Linked DNA regions of Homo sapiens. The protein of the gene in region 2 purifies or fractionates together with the protein of the main gene of each other region. This does not show direct contact. Each region holds a gene or a part of one and is shown on either strand. Other genes may lie near its edges. The genes, in order: WWC1 and USP24.

The links.
Region 1: the proteins of USP24 (region 2) and WWC1 purify together in Homo sapiens (co-immunoprecipitation; one large-scale study listed by IntAct). This does not show direct contact.

The regions. Positions count from the first base shown.
Region 1 is NC_000005.10:168,430,872-168,434,895, reverse strand, and holds part of WWC1 (protein KIBRA), read right to left. Parts: intron 3,645-4,024; coding exon 3,452-3,644; intron 1-3,451. UniProt on the Homo sapiens protein: Regulator of the Hippo signaling pathway, also known as the Salvador-Warts-Hippo (SWH) pathway.
Region 2 is NC_000001.11:55,208,865-55,212,364, forward strand, and holds part of USP24 (ubiquitin carboxyl-terminal hydrolase 24), read right to left. Parts: intron 1-3,500. UniProt on the Homo sapiens protein: Ubiquitin-specific protease that regulates cell survival in various contexts through modulating the protein stability of some of its substrates including DDB2, MCL1 or TP53.

The DNA.
Region 1 (4,024 bases), on a different chromosome or scaffold from region 2:
GGTGAACCATGGGACGTCAGTGGGGCCTGAGAAGCAGGCTAGCTCGAGAGAGCCCGGGCTGGGTGGCATTGAGCTCAGCAGTAGAGCAGTGGGCAACTAGGCTCCCTGTGATGCCATGCAGGGCATTTGGTGGAACTGTTGCCTGCGATATTGGGAAGGTGGGCTGTGTATTCCTCCAAACCTGTAATCTGGGTCTGGGGACATGAGAGACACTCATAGTAACCCCCTGAGAAGTAGCATGGTGAGATGGCTACACATAAGGAAGCTGGAGTCTCTGTTCAAATCCAGGCTTTGCCATTTTCTCCTTGGATGACCTGGCAGCTTACTTAGCCTTTCTGGGCCTTGATCCCTTATCTTCCTGGGGCCATCACGAAGATTAAATGAGATACTGCACATGAAGTTCTTAGCCCACTGGTAGACACATAGACTCAACTCAGTACAGATGCTGTTGCTGCCTGGCTGAAAACAGACTGGGGATTCCACACATCCTGCTGTCCGGAGTCTCTGCGTGGGAGAGGACAGGCCTTTTTCCTCCCATCTCACTTCCTCTCCTCCTCCAGCCACCAGAATACGACAGCCTGACACTCCATGTCCCCACCGTATATGGGAAAGGAGGTTTCCCATTGGCCGCAGGCAGAGACAAGCCACAGTGAGATGAGCGCTTTGGCTGCTGCCATGGCAACCAGCAATGACCAGACTTCAATTAGGAAGGAGGAATAAAAGGCATCCAATTAGGAGAAGAAAATAGGATTGAGCCTCTTCTCGCTTAGGAATGCCCAGGGCCAAGGGAATGCTTCGCTGGAGGAGCCCAGGCTTGCCAACCCCTTCAAGTCACCACCCCCATCTCTGGGCTCCAGGGAGCCCTGTGCTGGCAAAGAGACAACACAGAGGCGCTGACGTGTGTGGACTTCAGAGGGAGACCTGCTGGGGTTCAAATACGGCTTCTGCCACTTTCCTAACTGTGACAGGAAAGGTCTTTCACCTCTTTGTGCCTCAGTTTCTCCACTGGAATACGCTACCTATTTTGCAAGGTTGGAGTGAGGATCAATAGAGATAATGGGCTGGGGTGGTGGCTCACACCTGTAATCCCAGAACTTTGGGAGGTGGAGACAGGCGGATCACTTGAGGTCAGGAGTTCAAGATCAGCCTGGCCAACATGGCAAAACCCCGCCTCTACTAAAAATACAAAAATTAGCCGGGTGTGGTGGTGGGCGCTTGTAGTCCCAGCTACTCTGGAGTCTAAGGCAGGAGAATTGCTTGAATCTAGGAGGTGAAGGTTTCAGTGAGCCAAGATCACGCCACTGCACTCCAGAGACTGAGAGCAGGACTCAGTCTAAAATAAAAAAAACAGATAATGCATGTAAAGAGCTTAACTCAGTGCCTGCCATATAAACTGCAACCTACTGGTATTAACTACTGCATTATTGTCAGTAACAACATCAATAGCAGTGATGCTGTGTTGTACCCAGCTAAGAAGGAGAGATGGGAACCGATATCCAGTGAGCACAAACTGCAAACACTTTGCTGCTCTACATTCTTGCTACCCAAAGTGTGATCCAGGAACCAGCAGCATTGGCCTCACCTGGGAGCTTATTAGAAATGCAGAATCTCAGGTTCTGCTCCAGACTTGCTGAATCAGAATCTGCATTTAGCCAGAGCTCCAGGTAACTTGTGTGCATGGCACAGTTTGAAGCGCTGCTTCAGCGCCTTAGTTAGTCTTCAGAGAACCACCTCCAGGAAGGCAGTATGAGCCAGATTTTACAGATAAGGGAACTGAGACTAAGAATTGAAGACTGTGAGGAGACACAGCTGGAAGGGCAAGGCTGGTGACAGCCCCAGGCCACAATCCAAGGATGTGGCCCCACAATGCCATGATAGAGAAGGGTTTTATAGCGCATGCAGATCAAGGCAAGGATGGAGAGCAAAGAGATTCCCTTCTCTGGGCAAAGGTCTGTGATTTACAGCAGGAGAAAGGGGCGAGCCCTCCAAGAAGGCAGTGAGAGGCTCTACATTCCAGCTTCCAGAAATGGAGGCAGGAGAGGCTCGGAGAGGTGTATACATCTTGTTTTTCCCCTTTGCACATACCCCACATTTTCCTCCATCACTTCAACCCATCCATTTCCAACACGGCCCTCCTCACAGTTTGTTTACATCTTAGCCATCAATGCTGGCACCTTGTCTGTTTGGTTCCCCATTGAATCCCCAGCCCCAGACACAGGGGTGGGGACACAACAAGCTCCCAGTACAGATCTGAGCATGAGTGGAGCGACCTTCTAGGTATAATGCCCACACTTGGGCTCCTTTGTGCCCACAGTTGAGTTATCATTAAAATATTCTAACACTAAATGGCATCAGGGTTAACAAAGCCCTTTACTTCTTCTAATTCACTTGTACATCACAAGCCCGAGTTAGCTATTATATAAATCCCCCTTCTACAGATGGGAAAGCTGAGTATCTGTCTGCACTTGGGTCTGCCTGTCTCTTAGGACAAAATGTACTTGGGCTACTTCATCCCCAGTCCTGACTCCTGCCAATGCAGTGAGAGATGGAAGCCGGAGAAGGTCAGTTTCAGGGAGGAGGCTGGCAATGGCCCCACTAAACGAGAACCCACTGTGGATCAGACACTTGAATAGGTGTTTTACGGGTGCTATCTCAATCCTTATAAAGATTCTTCCAGTGGGCATGATGGAGGCATTATCATTTGCATTTTAGGGATAAGAAAAATGAGGATCAGAGATGTTAAGTACCTTGCCCAAGGTCATCCAGCTATACAGCAAGTGGTAAAGGTGGGATGTGAATGCCTATGTGTTTGCTTTCATTACTCTGTGCTTTTTTTTTTTTTTTTTTTGACACAGGGTTCTGCTGTTGCCCAGGCCAGAATGCTGCGGCATGATCAGCTCATTGCAGCTCAAGGGATCCTCCCATCTCAACCTCCAGAGTAGCTAGGACTACAAGCATGCACCACTATGCCTGGCTAATTTTATTTTTTGTAGAGATGGGGTCTTGCTGTGTTGCCCAGGCTGCTTTCGAACTCCTGCACTTGAGTGATCCTCTGGCCTTGGCCTCCCAAAGGGTTGGGATTACAGATATAAGCCACCACACAGCCATAGTCTGTGCTTCTTATCTAATCTCTCATGCTGTATAGTAAAGCTGCAGTATGTGGCTTTTTCCAGGTTCTGGCAGTTTTAAAAGGCACTTTCAGGTCCATTACTCTTCCTCTTGTGAAAGAGCTCCTTCCCTCCCACCCTAAGTCTGAGAACAACATTCACCTGTGGAAGCCTCGCTGCCTAGAATCCAAGATGAGCCTGATTGATAGCACAACCTGCGTCTCCTTCGAACCTTCTTCCTGAAGCTCAGGGTAGACCAATCCCCATAAACACAGAAGGCCGGTCAGCCAGCCAGCCAGCCAGCCAGCCAGCCAGCCAGCCAGCCAGCCAGACACGGCCCTTACCAGGCACTCTTCCAGATGGCTCCTGTCGGTGGTACAGACATCGACTCTTAAGGTCTTCTGGTGAAGGGCTGGATAGGACATGGATACCCAGAACACCTCATTGAACACTAGAGTGTCTGAGGCGTCCAGAGGCCGGGTCCGGAACAGGCAGGTTGTGCTTTCAGAGCAAGGAAGGACAGCCACGCGGATATTCCTAGAGGGAGACAGAACCGCAGGAAATCTTGGGTCAGCCCATGTCTGGGGCTAAAATGTTGGACTAAACAGCTGCTGAAATCCCTAAGCAAACAACAGTGGATGAGAGTTTGTAGAAGTGAGGAATCTGGGGAATCAGGCCCCTATACACTGGAAGGAACTTTGACAAATCGAACAAAATTCCAGATGCATTTGTCCTTTGGTCCAGACCCTTCACTTCTAGGCATTATCCCACAGATGCCCCTGCATGAGTACCAGTGAGCTATGGAGGAGGCTATTCAGCCTGGCACTGTCTGTGTGGGCAGAAGACTGAAATTGACCCAAGCATCCCATCTTGTCTTCCTTCCGTTTTGTCCGCCTTCCTGCCCTTTCTTCTTCCCA
Region 2 (3,500 bases):
GGCGGACGTTGCAGTGAGCCAAGATCACACCACTGCACTCCAGCCTGGGTGAAAGAGCAAAACTCCATCTTAAAAAAACAAAACAAAACAAAAAAAACCCAATAATGTCACCTACTATCAATATGAGCTTAACGAAAATTTTTATGTCAGTTGTGACTGAAAAATGTGATAACACTAAACAATAAAAATTCCTATGATAAAGAAAATGAAAAATACAAGCTTAAAAAAGGAAGTAAAACTCCCTAGAAAAAAAAGGGAGGAAAAAAACATTTACTCTTTTGAAAATGAAGCACAACTCTCTTAGTCGTACCTCTGCAATCTAGTATCATGACTGAAATGTCCTCACATCTGAATTTTCCAGGTGTCTGAAGCCTACTTCTTTATCCATCCAACTTCTTCTTTTTTTTTCTTTTTAAAAGGAAAACCTTTCTAAAATACATTAAACATTCCTGACCCTTCTTAAGCAGACCACACTGGAACCTCTTCTTGACTGTGACATCATTGAAAACACAGTTATCCTCTCAGGGCCATGAAACACATAATAAAGCTGTTTCAAATCACCCTACACAAATCGGCTAGTGTGATTTGGTTGAGTCGGCTTTTAAAGCTTTCCTGTTCCCTCCTTGACCACTAAGCTGCTACTGTCACTTCTCACTATTGTCAAATGAGCTTGTCTCTAAGAGCTCATCACCTTGTGTTTAGATTGCCATAAAACCATTCTAATTTGATAGGAAACCTAATATTGAAACTTGTTTGAACTGTATTTTTTGTTAAGTTTAAACACAAATGAAAGAAATGCATGAGCTTTAGTGCACTTAGAGCGCTTAGTGAGTGGAGTGCATGAGCTTTAATGCATGTACGAAGGTGTTCTGAAATGGTTCCATCTTATGTGTTTACTTCTTATTTCTCTCTGTGGTTCCATATAAGGAAAATTTCCAGGAAAACTGAACTCCAGATTTCAGATTCTACTAAATCTTTTTTAACATTTTCTTATTAAAAGTAAAAAACGCCCTCCTTCACACTCAGATCAAGTAAATGGTATATGATATTGTAGGCAGTAAGTATAAAAATACTTAAGTATATGGACATATTTTTCTATTAATGTTGAAACCTTTTCCTCAAATTGCTAAAACATTACAACATTTGCTTTTCTAACATTGAAATTGTTTTCAAAATTTAAGCTAACAATATTATTATGCTGTATAAAGCTGTCACAACCTACTATGATTTCACTAAAACCACACTCACAGACACACGAAAGGTACTCTCTTCATGCCAAATTACATTCATTCTAAAAGTGAATGGGCAGGTAATTACAAGGTGAGACTCCAACCATTAGATTAACTCACAGACCTAATTCCCAAAGGAGATATATATACATATACTGGATCAGAAAGAAATTCTTATTTAAAAATTAGGCCATGCTGATTCATCTTTAATTCCCTATTTTTATTTCATCTACTTTCAACTGATTTGGGAAATTATTTCATTTTTTTACTCTAAAGCCTTTAAAGGGCCTTTTTTTATTTACCAAATCACAGTAATTCATAAACCACAGGTCATGTACCAAATCACTAATAGTTAACTAAAAGCTACTCATTTGATATTTACTCCACACTCATACTAGGGTTGTTGTATTTTAGGAAAAGAATAACATGAATTTTACCATAAACCTTAATTATACACATTGACAGTATTACAATTTTAATCCATTTATAATTACCACTTACTACCAAAGGGGAACAAGAGAAATAGGAATGAGGTAAGTTAAGGAACTACAAATTAATATGCTTCTTATTTTTATGTGACTTAGATATATTAACAGCAGGACCAACTTTGGGGCTCTAAACTTAAAAAAACAAAAAAGCAATGAAATCTTGAAAGTACTCCTGACAAAACAATACCTCCAGAAAGAACATCCACATTAAAACAGGAACAAAACAAGGAGTTCACAATGTTTATCAGATCACAGTATTAAATGTCACTTCTGGGAATATTAATTAACAGCACTAGACAGCTAAGAAAGGTATTTCCTCAGTTAATATGAAATCTCCTTCCAAAAACTTCCATTTTAGTATTTTCTAAAGACAAACTTAATGAATAAGGTATTCATTATAGTATTAATGTTTGATGGTATTCCTTATGGATAAGGTACATTTCATAATTGTTAAGTTCTGTGAGATGCACAGGATACCTGGTTCAGATTTCTACTGATCCCCTGGAGAGATTACAAAGGCCCAACTCTTCCTGTTGTGTAGAGAACAGAACCAATTGGTACGCACTTGGCAGGCCAGAGTTTACATTAGCCATGCAGTAAAGAGTGAAGAATTCTGACAGGGGGGTGGTTAAAAATCAGAATAAGTTATTTAGAGCAGCTGTGAGAGCTCACTCTCTTTAATAATAGAACAGACTCTTATGTGCCGTGGAATGATTTTGAAGTAATGCTATTCAAAATCAAAACTGGACAGCTTCTCAAAGTCCCTTCCAGACCCAGAGACCAAGAACATTTACATCCAACAATACTAGTGAGAACCAAACACATCTCTTCTGCAAAACACTATCTTTACTTAATTGGAGGATATTAACAAGGTGGCTTTCTATGCAGTTGTGTGTTTTGCTAGATATCTGGGTCTTTTTTATCTGCATTCTCCTTGCTTCTACTGAACCGGAAGTTAACAGCTTTCACTGTTCAAATATTAATTTTTAAACCAAACCCTAATTACAGCAGGGCCTCAAACTGATTTACCTAACTAGCTACATGACCTTGGACAGTCTTTTCTTGTAAAATGAGAGGCTTGGACTAAGACCCACTAGAATGTAAACACCACGTTCTGTTCAACACTCTACTCCCTGCCCCTGGGACAGGAAGGCATTAAGAGAAAACCATTGCTATCCCCAAACTACAAATATAAAAAAACTTAAGTCATTTCTTTCTTTTCTAATCAATTAGATTTTATTCTGTTTTTCCCATTTTTAAAGAAGACAATGACACTGAAATGTCCTGTGCAGCAAATAGAAATGTATATAATTTAAAATAAGGTACTCAGTTTTTAGAAATAAAAAGGATTAACTATATAATAGCTGACAATCTTCACCCAGTTTTTTTACTCTTCTTCCTTCCCTTTAACCCATTACTGTGTCCCATTCCTTTTTCCTTTGAAAGAGAGCCCGAAAGAGTGCAGGACTTCAAGCAAAAGGGCCTGAGTACTAGCCCCACCTCTTCTATTAACTGACTCTGTGGGGACAAGCCACTTCCCCTTTGGGGCCCGAAAGGGTGCATCTGTTAAACAAGGGAGCTGCACTAATTATTAATTTCTAAAGTATGCTTCTTTTTAAAAAATCTGATTCACCTTATATTCTACCCATTATTCGATTCTTAATGGTTGGTGCTCACCACATCATTGCACAGTAGCCTTAAAATATGTCTTTCCCTCATTATTTCTCCTTACTATCCATACTGTTACCAAACAAATTTAATCCTAAAACCATGAGTTGAGCAG